Regions from separate parts of the Homo sapiens genome. Here region 2 is linked to region 1. The links come from fine-mapping of genetic effects on gene expression. Tissue or cell type: monocytes. Region 1 holds a variant in brackets; the other region holds the start of a gene. All regions are shown on one strand. Distances are from middle to middle.

Region 1 (8,177 bases):
GGCGTGGATAATCCAGGAAATGTCCAGCCTTGTTCTATCTTGTTCCAGATTCAACATCTTATCCCAATGAAGTCCTGGCCCCAGGACGCTCTCCCGGTTTGGAATAGCTGTTACAGGCTTCTTCATTCCTGCGGCGGCTCATTTCCCTATTTGGTTTTGTCCTCACTTCCGAAAAGTGAATAGGATCATCTCCTTTCTGATTTTTATTTCTCTTCTTGCCATCCATCTCTTCATCTTGTTAACTAAAAGATGACACAATCTATACATTTAGAAGAGGAGACATTCTTTCTTTTTCTTTTCTTTTTTTTTGAGATGGAGTTTCATTCTCGTCGCCCAGGCTGGAGTGGAGGGGTGTGATCTTGGCTCACTGCAACCTCTGCCTCCTGGGTTCAAGCGATTCTCCTGCCTCAGCCTCCCGAGTAGCTGGGATTACAGGCGTGCACCACCACACCCGGCTAATTTTTTTTGTATTTTCAGTGGAGATGGGGTTTCACCATGTTGCCAGGCTGGTCTCGAACTCCTGACCTTGGGTGATCCATCCGCCTGGGCCTCCCAAAGTGTTGGGATTACAGGTGTGAGCCACCATGCCCACCTAAAGACATTATTTCTTGTAAAGAGTTACACTCTGCAAGGTGGCATCCCGCAGGCTGGGAAGCACAGCCTCCCGCAGAGACCGCAGACAGGCATCTTGGAGGAGAAGGGGCAGGAGCTTTATGCTGAATGGGCTGGAGGATCATACATATTCAACAGGTTACAGGAGGAGCTGTGAATATTCATGAAGTGGTCCTGACGCATGTGTATTGAACAAACATCCACTTACATACAACCCATGTTCACCTTGGAGAGGAGACTTAACATCTACGTGCATCCCAGGCAGGCTCTGCACTTCTAAAGGTGAAACAGGGACATGAAGGCTCCCAGTGCTCAGCCTCTATCAGCCGGCCAGAGCCCATCCATGGGCTTATTCTTGTCCAGAGGAAGTTACTGAAATCGGTCTCTTGTTCCATCAAAGCTGTAGTTACGGCTGGTGGAACAGGGCCAGTTAGCCAGCATCGGGTGGTGGATAAACTACGACTTGTTTTCATCTTGCTCATCTCAAGGCCAACGCTGGTTTAGCTGCTGGAGAAGAAAACCTTGGTGGTGGTGAGGACAGAGTTTCTTATTTAGGTTCAGGGTGCGAGACTTCGCTGTAGCCTGGCCAGGCCTTAGGTCCTGTGTGTGATTTGTGTCTTATTGCCACAGTCTGTTCTCTGGTCTCACCATCTCTATTTTAACATGAATGCTGGCCAGTTGTGTCTAAATCCCAAAAGGGAGGGGGTATAGTGGGGTGTGTCTGACCTCCCGTCCATCGTGCCTGGGAACTCATTTTTTTTTTTTTTTTTTTTTTTGAGACGGAGTCTCGCTCTGTCACCCAGGCTGGAGTGTAGTGGCGCGATCTTGGCTCACTGCAAGCTCCACCTCCCAGGTTCACGCCATTCTCCTGCCTCAGCCTCCCGAGTAGCTGGGATTACAGGCGTCTGCCACCACGCCCGGCTAATTTTTTGTATTTTTATTAGAGACGGGGTTTCACTGTGTTGGACAGGTTGGTCTCGATCTCCTGACCTCATTATCTGCCCGCCTTGGCCTCCCAAAGTGCTGGGATTACAGGCTTGAGCCACTGCGCCCCGGCTGGGAACTCGTTTTTTAAGGTTGGCCAACGGGTTCCATTCAGTCAGTTGGGGGGCTCAAGATTTTACTTTAAATTTGCGATCCTTATCATTCAAGTGTAGAAGGAAGAATGGAGAGCCCGGTGAGACGCTCCGCTGGCCTCTGAGCAGCGACTGTCAGCAGATGCCCCTCCTTAGCCAGGGCCCCAGTGATGGTCTCTGTGTGTGAGCTGATTAAAAATGACGATAAAGAGGCCTCCGCTATCAGCTCATGACCCTGAACTCTCCATTTTAAAAAAGCCTAAATTGACCTCTTACAGAAGGGAAGGACGAAGAGAGACTCACTCCTCATCGGACTGGAACTAGGTGGAAGCAGGGAGGAGCTAGGCTCACAGTGACTGCGTAGCTCAGTTTATTTCCTGCAGTCCCCATTTCTGACATTCTGTCCTCTGGCCGTATATGTACAGACCACATATTCTAATGTTTGATTAGAAAATATAGCTACTAAATTCAATTCTTGCATCAAAATTGTATTTTAAAATATAAGCATGTTTAATACTGGTCTACAGAATGAGCTGGTTGCTTTGTTTGTACACAGAGCTCACATTAAGCCTCACGTCCAATCGTGGCTTCCGTCCACTGTGATGGGCGGATTCTTCCTAGGGGCCTCCCCTGGCCGTCTCTCACTGTGAACGCCACCCCTGTCTCCCGCCCACACCACTGCAACCTGCCTTACAAACTCCCCCGCTCTCCTTCCAGCCCAGCACAAGCTCAGGACGCCAGACGTCCACACTGCCCAAGCTGCTGTGGTTCACCCAAGACTTTGGAGGAAATATTCCTTCTTAAATTTGTGTCAATAAGCCAGACAGCTTTCCAGCTCCTTAGAAGTAGTTATCCTGTGGAGTGTGGACTTCATTCTTTACCTCCTTAAATTAAGATGAAATTTAGAAAGGCAAACCGGGCTGCAGTGGGCACCTGACTGCACAGAGTGGCTGCTGATTTGCTGATTTGCAGGAGATTAAACCCAATCCGAGATGGAGGGGGTCTCATTTCTGCGCTTACATCGTCATGCATGTGGTTGGACTTGTGTGCATGCGTGTGGACCTGCGTGCCTGTGTGTGCACGTGTGCTTCTGCGAGCTCTTCAGAGAGCCTGTAGAGGCTGGTGGTTACGAACTGAGGGATGTAAATGAGCCACTGTGGGCTCCATGACCTTTCTTTCCCTGCCTGTCCCCCAAGGAGGGGCGTGTGAGGTAACCACTGCAGACGTTTTCCTGCGTGTCCACAAGGAGATCGTCTGGTTCTATTGATGGAGGTGTTTTCCCTAGTTCTGTGGTGAAGTTGGCAGCTTCAGACATTTTGTTCTCATGACGCAGCTCTGACAACTAAGATGGGCTCCCCTGCCTCGGCCGGGCTCCTCGGTTTCCCGAGAGTGAGGCCTCTGTTGGTCGATCGTGTTACCGGGTGGCTGTGAGTTACGCAACTCACGAAAACATCTCATCCGGATGGGCATGGGGCGGGAGGGTGACCCCAGGAGCTATGAGTAACTTCCCAGCATGCCGGCTTCTTGCGCGTTCCCAGAGCCTGGTGTGTGATACCCCAGGTGGGCGGGTGGATGGCTGGAGTCTGGTTCTAGTCACACAGACCAAGAATGCGACATTTAGATGTGATCTAAAAACAGCCATTTTTCCAAAAGCTGTTTACTTTGGAAAGTGTATCAGGCAGCAGTTTCTGGAGACCTGTAATCGTTTTATGATTTATGCAGTGAAAACCTAATTACAAAAAGGACGGGCGCGGTGGCTTACGCCTGTAATCCCAGCACTTCAGGAGGCCGAGGCAGGAGGATCACTTGAGGAGTTTGAGACCAGCCTGGCTAACATGGTGAAACGCCATCTCTACTAAAAATACAAAAATTAGCCGAGCAGGGTGGTAGGCACCTGTGGTCCCAGATACTGAGGTGCTGAGGTGGGAGGATCACTTGAGCCCGAGAGGCATGACAGGTGTGTACAGGGGCTGAGCGGCAGGTACTTTCTGAATCTCAAGGGAAGACCTGCAGCCCGTGGGCACTTCACGGGCCATGGATGGAGCGCCTGTTGTCAGCGGCGTGGGAGAACTCTAGGGATGGGGCTGTGCTGAGGCCAGCGGCCTGCAGGTGCACGGCCAGTGAGCTGGGCTCTTTCCAGCAACACCTTCAGGAGACTCTGGTGGTTTCTTTTCTCCCTCATTCTCTGACAAAGAAGACGCTGGGATGCGCCATGCATCCCACATCTGAGAAATGCTTGCCTCCTGTGTGCTGGACACTGGGCCAGGCGCTGGCGAAGGGATAGGGTGGTGGAGCCAGTTTATCCTGAAAGTCCCTTTGCACACATCTCTTATTACATGTGTGTTGAGACCGAAAATAAAGTCTGGAACCAGGGTGTCACAGATGAGGGTCACAGACACACAGCAGATATAGCATGGTGCTCCCAGCAGAGATGGAGCTCCCAGCAAAGATGCAGGAGAGCATGTACAGTCCCTGGACTCAGCCTATGTGCAGCAAGAAATTCATTAGGGGATCTCTGGCCCCGGGTGCCACCTGGGAGCATGTGTGTGCAGGGCCACCTGGCCAGCGAGGGCCCTAGGATGGCCTGACCCGTCAGGGATGCTGACAGCAGGGCTGGCTCAGTCACCGAAAGGGGAAACAAAGGCTCTCCGGGGCCTCCCTGGGGCTTGCACCATCCTGAGGTCTTCAGACCCCCTTGGAGACGGAAGGGAGGTGGCCGAGTGGCCTGTGGCGTGGGGCTCCTTTGCTGTTCCTTGCAACTTGGGGGTCTCTGACTCTTGGAGCTGGGTGACAGGTGGGGATTTTTGCTCCTCTAATGGTCTTTGGATGATAAACTCCCAACTGACGCTCCAGGCTGGTGTCTTTACAATGCATGCTCTGAGGAAAGCTAGTCTGTGAAGCCATGCATTGAAAGGGTTCTATTATGGGTTGGGAGTCTGAGTCCCTCTTGGGGAGAGCC[G/T]TCGTGCAGGGAGCAGCTGGAGGCCTCGGGGCTGTGCTTAGCTTTGCTTCCCCAGCTTTGCTGACCCCAGTGAGCTCTTTCCCACGTGGTACCTGTCAGCAGTGCAACGGGAAGTTCTGTGTGTGTTAAACCACACAGGGGGTTCAGAGCTATCCCCAGGGCAGACCTGGAGTTTTTTCTGGTGTTCCTTAAAAGCATCTGATGAATATTGGGATGAATTTCCTGAAGAACTTGGAGGAGACTTTCTCCTTTCTGAAAATTAAACGTTCAGATCAGCACATGATAGGAATCTGGGTGGTGGAGGAGAAGATGTGGGTCAGTCTCCCCAGTGCCCCAAATCCAGTGAAATGACAACAATTTTTTAAAAAATTAAGTGTGTTGTTTTAAAAAATACAACCACAAGTTTCTGACGATCTCCCTCAATTTATCCTCCCCTTCAGCATGGTCTCTGTTGGTCACTTGTTTCTAATGAGTAGGAAGCGGCTGAGGTGGCTGTGGGTGGCCTCTGTTGGCATGTAGTTTCCTGCTTGCTCTCAGACATTGCGCTCTGGGGAAGCTGGCTGCCACGTCCGCAGGACACTTGTGCAGCTCTCTGGGGAGGTCTGAGGCCTCTGCCAGCAGTGCTGCTGGCTCGGGGTGTGTGGAAGCAGGTCCTCCAGCCCCCGTTGAGCCTTCAGATGATGCAGCCCCAGCCGTCACCTTGAGGGCAACCTCAGGAGAGCCCCACACCACCCAGCTAACCCGGAGACTGCAGGCGAGAATGTATGTTCCTGTCATAAGGCACAAGTTTCAGAGCAGTGTTGTTACATGGCGTAGGTAACTGGTGCCTAAGTGTGACTCCCTAACCACAGTGCTCACCTCCACTCAAGAAACTGCTGACGGTGGATCAGACATCTTGACAAAGAGAAACCAATGGAACAGACATCTGAGAAATAGGAGAAGAGCTGTCCTAGTCAGGCAACGTCCGGCCTCGGAGTGGATGGGGAAGGATGGAGGCAGACAGGTGGGATCGCAGTGGGGGGTGCATTCTGTCCCCGCTCCCCAGGCTGTGCGGACCCACAGGGCAGAGGCTGCCGGCCTGCTGTTCCCTCCTGCACAGTGCCTGGGGCGCCAGGCTCATGGGGTGCTCTCAGTGGAGAGGTTAGAGGGACTAGGAAGGAAGACCTCTTGTCCCAGGCAACCTGCAGAGGCCGGGAGCCCTGGGGGGAGGTCCTGGGAGGAGCCCTGGGGGGAGGTCCTGGGAGGAGCCCTGAGGGAGGCTCTGGCCCTGCATCTGCCTGGAGCTTTGCCCAGGATTGCCGTTCTCGTCTTCCCAGGATTCCGACTCTGTGCTTCGAAATGTCGTTACACGATCTCTTCTGTTGTCTTAGTTGGGGCTCTTTTTGTTACAAGTGACAGAAGCCCAATGTGAAGGAGCCTGTGCCTGGGGGTGCCTGCCCTGGGGGATCAGGGACCAAGCCACGTCTGCTCACGGTGGGACACAGTGTAGACACAGTGTTGACGTCTTAAAGCCTTACTTCTCATTCCATTACGCAGAGGAGTGACTTCAGCTGCCAGCCCTGGTCCCCAAGGCTCCAGGAGAGGTTCTGTGGGACTAGACCCAGGTCAGCGGCTCTGACAGGGACAGGATCGCGCAGCGCAGACATGGCCGTCGGCTGAAGGGCCTCCTGTGGTGCGCAGGCCACTGCCGGCTCATGTCCAGGTCATCTCTCCCGCGCTGCAAATCCTGCTTGCCCAAAGTAAAAATGGAGCGTGTAAAGTTAGCACGGTGGACATTTGTGCACTTATGGGACAGAGGAGGCTTGAACTTCATTCCGAGGGGAAAGAAGCCAGCCCTGGCTTTCTTACTCTGTTAGATAACCCTGTCTCTCTAGGTTTCAAAAATATCTTCATCCCATCGCAAGTGACCAGGAGGGACTTCTGGGCCTCACCCAACTCACTACCGCAGTGAGTCGCTAGTACTGGTAAGATGACCTGTGGGTTGGGTCAAGGGCTCCCGGAGTCCTCTGCCTGCTATGATGCGTGAAGTTCTTCCATTCACCATGTCTCTCAGTGAAACTCGGTCCCACAAGCCCCTCCGGGAGAGCTGGTTTTGTCCCCTGAGTGCCGAGATGCATAAGAAAGTGGCTGGTGGGTTCCTCAGGACGCCACAGTCCAGTGAGGAGAGCAGAGGGTGCAGCAGCCCTTACGGCCGGGTGAGGGGTACGGGGGCTCCAGGCAGGCACAGCTGCTGAGAGAGAGGGGTCGGGGCAGTCGTCACCATCAAGTGGATGGCTGAGGCAGGACGTCCCTGCGGGCTGATTGTCCCTGGTCCTGACCAGATTTGCTGTGACCACCTGGCTGGGCCCTGAAGAGGGCAGAGGAATTGCTCAGGTGGGGCCAGGGCACAGGGCTGAGGCCTGCAGTCGGGCCGTGCCAGGTTGCAGATAACATCCGGGGCACCCCTGAGCAGGCGGCTCTTCTGAATCGCTCTGTGTTTTGCTCTCTGTTTTCTGCCTTGGGAAGTGATTATTTTTCAAAACATTCTCTTAAACGTGGCGGGGGCAGGGCACTAGAAGCATCCAGGCATGAAGACAGCCCCCAGGTCAGCAGGGCTGGGGAAGCTGGGCTGGGCGGGGGCTGGAGGACAGGAGGCTGTGCTCCTATCACGGTCTGTCCCTGGCGTGAGCAGTGCAGGTGTGACAGTTCTGGGGTGGAGCTTACTTTTCAACTGAAACCACTTTCCCATGGACGTGCTTGCCTGCCTGCCTTTATTATTATAGTTTAATGTGTTTCATTGTCCATGTTAAAAATGCTTGTGTTTATTTTGCACCAACTGTTCAAAAAAACCCACCCATTCTAAAATCCAAATAGGATTTCATCTGAGTTATAAACCCACCCATTCTAAAATCCAAATAGGATTTCATCTGAGTTATAAACCCACCCATTCTAAAATCCAAATAGGATTTCATCTGAGTTATAAATACAACAGCCTGGCAAAGGGCAAGTCAATGGAATCAATACGATCTGCCCTAGCGTCCGCGTATTTTCCAGCCTGCTCCATTGCTAATCACTCCTGAAGCCTCCTTGGTGCCCCGGCTTTATTGATTGCCTCTGCAGAAGAATGTGTGTGTGTGGGGTCCCCAAGGACACAAGGACGCCACTGGCAGGGCCAGAGACAGAGGCATGCTCTCCAGAGGCCTGTCCTGCTGCTGCTGCTGCTGAGCAGGACTTTGGGCCAGCGGCCACCCATGATGACATTGAAGCTGGCCCCAGAGATCCCAGGATAGAGGCCCCAGGGCAGCACTGCCTGCTCCACCTCCACAGAGAAACATCCCTGTGAGCTTGGGGTGTGGAGAAGACGAGGGAGGAGCCCTCCGTGGATGCCTTGGGCTTGGAGGTGTCTGCATGGATGAAGGCTCAGATGGAATCACCCCAGTTCTGCTGCTGCAGTAGCTGTGTGGCCGTGGGCAGGTTCTTCAAGCTGTGCCTCAGTCTCCCTGTCTGTAAAGGGGGACATCATGTACCCTTGGAGCAGGGTTGAGGTGAGG
Region 2 (8,177 bases), 27 kb before region 1:
CAGTCTGCGCAGGTCTGCGGCGATGGCGACCATCTGTCTTTCAAAACATCTAAACAGATTCTTCCCAAGTGTCTTACATCGGGGTGATAAATTCTGGTCATGAAACATATTTTTGGGCTGCTGCTGGCTATTCTTCTGGAAGAGACAGTTCAAGTTCCAAAGATTCCTCTTCAAAGGAGGAATCCCATGGGCCGGCAATGTCCGTATGAAGTAATGAGTGCTGTTCTCATCTGATTCTGCCCGCTTGAACTCCTGCCAGCAGCAAGTGCTGGGCTGCCTTGGCAATTCCTCAGAGCCTCTCCATCATCTTGCTTTTCTAAAGTATGTTTTTTATGGCATAAAACTGTTTCCCCCATACCTAATAGGAAAAAAGGAACAGCTACTGAAGACAGAGGCTGACAAATGGTAGATACATAATGGTGTGGGGCTGCCGCAGCCTGGGGGTGGGAGGGGAACCGGAAGCACTCTTCCAATTTCAAGATGAAGTTTATTCTACGATGGGATGAAACCCACATCATTACTTCTTGTACTCGATTTTAGCAGTTATGTGTACAGGCTGTTGGGCTGGGCTCCCCAAGCTCAAATACCAGCTTTGTCACTTCTGGTTGTGTGACCATAAGTTACTTCACCTGTTTGTGTCCTAGTTGTCTCATTTGTTTTTAAGTGATATGGGGTCTTGCTGTGTTGCCCAGACTGGTCTCAAACTCCTGGGCTCAAGCAGTCCTCCTGCCTCAGCCTCCCATGTCTCATCTTTAAAATGTGGATAATAAGTCATACCAACTTCACAGTGTAATCATGAGGAGTAAAAATAATAATATGCATCAAATCTTTAAAATGTTACCCAGCACACACTACTATTATTATTGTCACAATTACTATTTTCTTTTTAATAAAAATATTTTTTGTAGAGATGGGGTCTTGCTGTATTGCCCAGGCTGATCTGGAACTCCTGGCCTCAAGTGATCCTCCCACCTTGGCCTCCCAAAGTGTTGGGATTACAGGCATGAGCCACAGCACCCAGCCTAGTACTACTATTTTCTAGTAAATGAGAAGCATTAGATATGAGATAGGAGTGCAGTTACAGTAAGACAGTAAAGACTATTTGGAGTGTTCCTCATCCTATCCCTTCATTCAACAAACTTTTAAAAAAATTGTCTACTATGTACCAAGCACTGAAGGACTAATAAGACACATTCTCTGACCTCAAGGTATATGCGGCACTCAGCAATACAGACAAATCCATTCATTCAGCAAGTACCAAACAACACATGGAGTGGTCAGTCCTTTGGTGAAAAGACATCAAGTCAACATGTCCTTACAAACTCTAAGCTAGCACCATGGCAGTGTTTCACACGGAGAGCCCATCTAGTTGTCTAGGGAGTGGTCAGAGAAGGCTTCTCTACGAAAGGGATAGTTAAGCTGAAATTAGAATTTTGTATAGGAGAAAAGTACTTGGAGGAAGGAAGAGCATTTTCAGTGGAAAAACTGCATGGGTGAAGGGCCCAAAGGAAGGAGGAGCATATGACTCAAATACACTGAAAGGCCAAAGTATCTGGAGGACAGAGAACAAGAAAGGAGGGCGATGGGCTGTGAGGTGGTCAGGCCGAGGCTATAGAAAGGAGGGTTGAAGCAGAAAAGGGGCTTGACTGGATTCCATGTTTTTTTGTTTGTTTGTTTTTTGAGACAGAGTCTTGCTCTGTCACCCAGGCTACAGTGCAGTGGTACAATCTCAACTCACTGCAACTTCAGACTCCCAGGCTCAAGCAATCCTCCTGTCTCAGCCTGCAGAGTAGCTGGGACTAGCGGTGCAAACCACCACGGCCAGCTAATTTTTGTACTTTTAGTAGAGACGGGGTTTCACCATGTTGCCTCGGCTGGTCAAGTGATCTACCCTCTTTGGGCTCCCGAAGTGCTGGAATTACAGGCGTGAGCCACAGTGCCTGGCATCTGGCTCCTATTTTTAAAAGGTCACTCTGGGTGCTGTGCATAGAATGGATTGCACTGGGGCAAAAATGGAAGCGGTGTGAGGAGGGGGAATTTCAGTAGTCAATTCCATCAGGCAAGAAAAGACTGCAGAAAGAGTTGGGCTGGAGAGAAGTGAATGGATTTGCGGTGTGTTTCGAAGGTCAAAGCAACATGACTTGCTGATAGATTGGATTGGATCTTGAGGGTGAGGAAAAGCAAAACTGAGAGTACACCTAGATTTTTTTATTAAGCCACTGGGCAGTCAGTGCTGCCGTTCACTGAGACGGGAAAGGTTAGGGAGAAGCATGTTTGGGGGTGTGTGTGGGGAATCAGTTGTTTTGGCCATGTTAGGTTTGACACACTGATTAGCCATGTATGTGACAACACCAACTGGATACTCAAGCCTGAGGTTCTGGAATGAGGTCCAGGTTGGAGATGTGGCTGCAGGAGCCGGCAGCACAGCATGGAAAGTCGCCTGGAGTGAGTGGATAGGAACAGGACGAGGAGAGTCTGGAACGCTCCACTAACCAGTGGTTAGAGGAGCAGGAGCTAGGAGGGGCCTGGGAAGGAGCAGCCAAGATGCCCTCATGAAGGAAAATGAGAAAATGTTTCAAGAAGGGCGTGGGCAACTGTGACGAATGTTGCTGGTAAGAACAGAAGTGCCATGATTGGATCTGGCAATATGGCAGTCATTAGCAGTTCCCCAGTGGTGAGAAGCGAAGCCTTATTGCAGTGGCTTAAGGAGAAAATGCGAGGTGCGAGATTGCCATTAGATTCTTGCATGAAGGTTTGTCATGAGTGCTGCAGAAAAATGGGCAATGGCGTCTAAGGTGTGTTCTTGAAGGATGAGTAGTAACTGGTCAAGTGAAGAGGTGGAGAGGTAGGCTCTCTAAGGAGGATGTATTTGCAAAGCCATTAGAGCAAGGGAACAGAAATGAAATAAGTGTGTATTTTTCTTGCAATATTTCTGGAAGTTCAAGAGTCAATTGCATGCATTGGGGTTGTGCTCTTACAGCAGTCTCATTTAAATCCTGTCTGCTTTATCGTTATTTGTTAAAGAGACTGAGGGAATGGCTGAGATAATCTGATCTTTTTCAACTCGTTGGTTTGAAAAGACATCTAGGATGGTCAAGCGGCTGGACTTTATTAGCTACATTGAAAAATTCAGAATGGGATAGGGGAAGCTTGTTTTTATTCTAAGACTAGCACATTACAGTGTATGGGGAAGGGAGAAACGATGAAAAGAGGAAACAAGAGGAAGTTTAAAAAGTACAGGGTAGCACTGCAGAATGCCGACACTGCAAAAGTCTGGCGAGCGGGGAGGTGGAGGACAATGTCTCACCTGGGATCCGAGCTGTGAAGTCTCAACTGTGCCCATATGGACTGCATGAGCTTAACAAAATCCTTATTCTTTTTTTTTTTTTTTTGCATTTGCTTTCCATACTCTAAACACGTTTAACGTCGTTTGCCTCACAAGATTGCTCTGAAGGTGCAGGGAGACCGCGGCAGCACACACAAGGCACGTGCGATGCCTACGGTGAGCTTCACCTGCCCGGCGCGTCTGGCGAACGGCTGGCCCCGGGCCGCGGGCCTCAGGCAGGTCCGAGGGTGCCCAGGACAGGGTCGGGGCTTGAATGCCTTTGCTTCCGAAAACAGCGGAGCCGTGGGGCCTCCCCCGCGCCGGCCCTGCCTCCAACCAGCCGCCCAATCCCGGCTCCCATGCGCGTCCACGCCTCCCTATAAGATAAAGCGCGGCCGACGGGCTCCGAGCGCGGCCCCTGGGTTCGAACACGGCACCCGCACTGCGCGTCATGGTGCAGGCCTGGTATATGGACGACGCCCCGGGCGACCCGCGGCAACCCCACCGCCCCGACCCCGGCCGCCCAGTGGGCCTGGAGCAGCTGCGGCGGCTCGGGGTGCTCTACTGGAAGGTACGCGAGCCCAAGCCTCGCAGAGCGTGCGGGCGACGCCGACCCCCAAACGCCGCGCACAGCCCAGCCTCCTCCAGGTGCCGGGCAGCGGCCTGGGAGCCGCGGCATGCTGCGCATGCTCAGCAGCGGGATTTGGGGGTTCGTGGCGGCTCCCGGTGCCTGGGGTGGGCTGCGCATGCTCAGCAGTGGGGCTGGGTGGTCAGGGCCTCCTGCGCGGCGCCTGGGTGTGCTGCGCATGCTCAGCAGCGGCGTTGAGGGGTCGGCGGTCAGCCCCCAGCGCCTGTGGTGTGCTGCGCATGCTCAGCAGCGAAGTTTACGGGGTTGGCGGTCGGCTTCCGGCGCCTGGGGTGGGCTGCGCATGCTCAGCAGCGGGGCTGGTGGGGGTCGGCGGTCCGTTTCTGTTGCCTGGGGTGTGCTGCGCATGCTCAGCAGCAGAGTTGGCGAGTCAGGGGCCTCGCAGCCGGGACTCGCTGCGCACGCGCAGCTCCGGGATTGGCAGCGACCTGAAGGGTCGGCCGGCAGGGCTGCAAGATTCGCCGGAGGCGGGCTGCGAGTTCGTGGGCTCGTTGGGCTTGTCCGACGCCCTGCCTGCCTGGCTAACCTCGGTCAAAGGCCCAGGGGTTTCTTCTATCGGAGGAAGGGGGACTCCGCTTGAAAGTGTCCTGGGGGAGGGACCGGGCGCCAGCAGATCGAGGCGGGGTCCTGCCGCGGTCTGTCGGGGATCCCCGGGGGGTAGCGCTCGGTGGTGGGGTGGGGGCGTCTCCAGTGGGCGGTGGAGCTGGCTTGGGTCCCGGCTGGGCCCGGTGTCAGCCCTGCCTCTGTAACGCTAGCTTTGCAAGGCGGGGCTAGGCTTTGCACCGGTGTCCCGTTGCTTGCACAGCACCAGTCCAGATCCGCTCACCTTGTTTATTTGCAAATGGTTTTGCAGTAACAAAGGTTTACTGCAAAAGAGAGGGCCAGGGTAGGCCTCAGGGATAGGCTGAGGGGTGACTGGATCTAATCTTCATTCATGTGATTTAAATGAAATACACAGGGTTACCTGGACACCACACTTTTTCCCTTGGGAAAGGATTATAGAATATTCCAGCATAATCTATTTGGATATCATCTTGTTCTATCCTAAATAACAGAAGAGGGAAGTGACAATTGGCATACCAGTGCGAAACAGGGCATGCATGTTAATGTTTACATAGTATTTGTCTTTTCCTAGGATAAGGTTTAACACTTACCTTGCTGGAGGGTACTTCTTCAAAGCAATCAAGTGGTTTATAGTTTTCCATTAATGAGAGGAGAATAAATTTTGACTTATTATGTTTATCCACAATCCAAACAACCAGAGGGTTCAAATTAATACACTTGGGGAGTTTCATTGTGCATTTGACGGTTTTAAGAACAAGAACAAGAGTGAGATTACAGGTCAGCTTCTTAATGTATTCAAAGAATAAAATAAGATTTATTTTAATAGACATCTTTTAGATTATTACATGGGCTCAAACATAGTTTTTCCTACCGTCTAGTTCTGCTCTGAGTCAGGGCTATCAAAATTAAATCATGTTTACTCTGTGGTTTTAATGTCCTGTGTGTTTTTATATTCTTCCTTTCTTTTTTTTTTTTGCTCTTTTTGCCCAGGCTGGAGTGCAGTGGCATGATCTCGGCTCACCGCAACCTCATCTTCCCGAGTTCAAGCCATTCTCATGTGTCAGCCTCCCGAGTAGCTGGGATTACAAGGTGCACAGCACCATGCCGGGCTAATTTTGTATTTTTAGTAGAGACAGGGTTTCTCCATGTTGGTCAGGCTGATCTTGAACTGCTGACCTCAGGTGATCCACCCACTTCGGCCTCCCAAAGTGCTGGCATTATAGACACGAACCACCGCACCCGGCCTATATGCTTTCTTAATATCCATTCTGGATCAGTGCTGTTGGAAGACAAAATTACAACAAATTTAGTTAAAGATCTAATTAGCTTTTATTCTTGATTTGTGAATAGGGCAACCTCCGTTCTACAAAATAGAATAAGAGCTCGATAGGGTAATAGCACAACAGTGGGTTTTGTAGGGCGGCAACAAAGAAACAGAACAATAGGTAGAAAAGCTGATTGGTTAACGTCAAGTTACATTAGGTTACTTTTTTCCTAAGGGTTAAAGCAGAAGCGACTTCCTTATTATTCTGACTCAGGAAGACTGGAATCTTCTGATCGCAGGAAAAGCTGGTCTGTTTGAGATGCACCTCCTTCTTTAAAGTTTTAGTTTGATCAAGTGGCATATGGCATGAGTGGCTGCATTTTGGTTTGGTCTCATCCTGGGGCCTAGTGCAGGGGCTCAGTCCAAAACAGTGACCTCTCCTGGGCCAGGCATGGTGGCTTCTGTCATCCCAGCACTTTGGGAGGCTGAGGCGGCAGATTGCCTGAAGCCAGAAGTTTGAGACCTCATCTCTAAAAAAACCCAAAAAACAAAAAAGCCACACACACACCCCATATTAACATTATATATATGTAACATCTCCCATAATTTTTAACAGAGGTAACACATGTGGACATGTTTGTGTATCTGTTTAATCAATCTGTTATTAGTGACATAGAGTTCTAAAAAACCTTTTGTCATACATACAAACAATTGGAAGATTATTTTAGCTTGGAATAAACTAAATACCTGCTGCTATAACAAAATGACAAAAATAGCTTAAACTGGGCAATTTATAAACAACAGCAATTTATAGAATTCTTATAGTTCTAGAGGCTAAGAAGTCCAAGATTAAGGTGCCAGCAGATTTAGTGTCTGATGAGGATCCTGTCCTCATAGACGGCCATTTCCTTGCTCTGTCCTCATGTGGTGGAAGGGGCAAACTGCTCTCTTACATCTCTCTTGCTCTTTTTTTTTTTTTTTTTTTTTTTTGAGATGGAGCCTCGCTCTGTCACCCAGGCTGGTAGCGCAGTCTTGGCTCACTGCAACCTCTGCCTCCTGGATTCAAGTGATTCTCCTGCCTCAGCCTCCCGAGTAGCTGGGATCACAGGCGTGGACCACCATGCCTGGCTAATTTTTGTATTTTTAGTAGAGATGGGGTTTCACCATGTTGGACAGGCTGGTCTTGAACCCCTGACCTCAGGTGATCTGCCCACCTTGGCCTCCCAAAGTTCTGGGATTATAGGTGTGAGCCACAGTGCCCAGCTCCATCTCTCTTACAAGGCCACTAATCCTATAAATGAGGGCTTGCCCTCATGACTTAATCACATCCTAAAGGTCCCACCCCTTAATACTATCACATTTGTGTTAAGTTTCAACATTCGTATATTTAAACTTATGACACGTGTCATATAATGTGTCATATTACATATTATGTGTCATAATATGGACACATTCAGACCATAGCAAATAGTACTGTGCATATCATGCAGTGGATAGGCTAAGTTTTAGAGTCAACTTTGTAGAAAATAACGTATTGATGACTAGTACTTTAATATGTTCTGGAGTATCGGGGGAACCCACCCCCAATATTTCAACATAGGTTCCATTTTCCATAAGTGTCGGCCAGCTGAGAAATAAAGAGAGACAGTATAAAGAGAGGAATTTTACAGCTGGGCCGCCAGGGGTGACATCACATATCGGTAGGACCGTGATGCCCGCCTGAGTCTCAGACCAGCAAGTTTTTATTAAGGGTTTCAAAAGGGGAGGGGGTGTAAGAACAGGGAGTAGGTACAAATATCACAGGCTTCAAAGGGCAAAAAGCAGAACTACTAATAAGGGTCTAACAAAGATCACATGCTTCTGAGGGAACAGGACAAAGGGCAAAAGCAGAACCACTGATAAGGGTCCAACAAAGATCACAGGGCAAAGGGCAAAAGCAGAACCACTGATAAAGATCTATGTTCAGTGCTGCACATATTGTCTTGATAAACATCTTAAATAACAGAAAACAGGGTTCGAGAGCAGAGAACTGGTCTGACCACAAATTTACCAGGGTGGAGTTTTTCCCCACCTTAGTAAGCCTGAGGGTACTGCAGAAGACCAGGGCGTATCTCAGTCCTTATCTCAACCGCATAAGACAGACATTCCCAGAGCAGCTGTTTATAGACCTCCCCCCAGAAATGCATTCCTTCCCCAGAGTATTAATATTAATATTCCTTCCTAGGAAAAGAATTTAGTGATACCTTCTCTACTTGCACGCCCATTTATAGGCTCTCTGCAAGAAGAAAAATATGGGTGTTTTTGCCTGACCCTGCAGGCAGTCAAACCTTATGGTTGTCTTCCCTTGTTCCCTAAAAATCGCTGTTATTTTATTTTTT

Evidence for each region. PIP is the estimated chance that this variant, and not a neighbour inherited with it, causes the effect.
Region 2: ADI1 starts here. The variant in region 1 is fine-mapped to the expression of ADI1 in monocytes (TOPMed, PIP 0.94).

Annotation. Positions count from the first base shown.
Region 1 is chr2:3,488,037-3,496,213 of GRCh38, reverse strand. No RefSeq gene overlaps it. Among named protein-coding and RNA genes, the nearest start is that of TRAPPC12-AS1, 8.9 kb to the right of the region's middle. The variant G/T (reference allele first, on the strand shown) is at 4,648.
Region 2 is chr2:3,515,087-3,523,263 of GRCh38, reverse strand. It overlaps ADI1 (acireductone dioxygenase 1), which reads left to right and starts at 3,733. Exons shown (of 4, transcript NM_018269.4): 1 at 3,733-3,896. The coding sequence starts at 3,777. It overlaps LOC124907725 (a long non-coding RNA gene), which reads right to left and starts at 3,718. Exons shown (of 2, transcript XR_007086195.1): 1 at 3,308-3,718; 2 at 1-358. RefSeq lists enhancers at 3,025-3,545, 3,546-4,067 and silencers at 3,487-3,616, 3,687-4,006, 4,087-4,146, 4,627-4,826.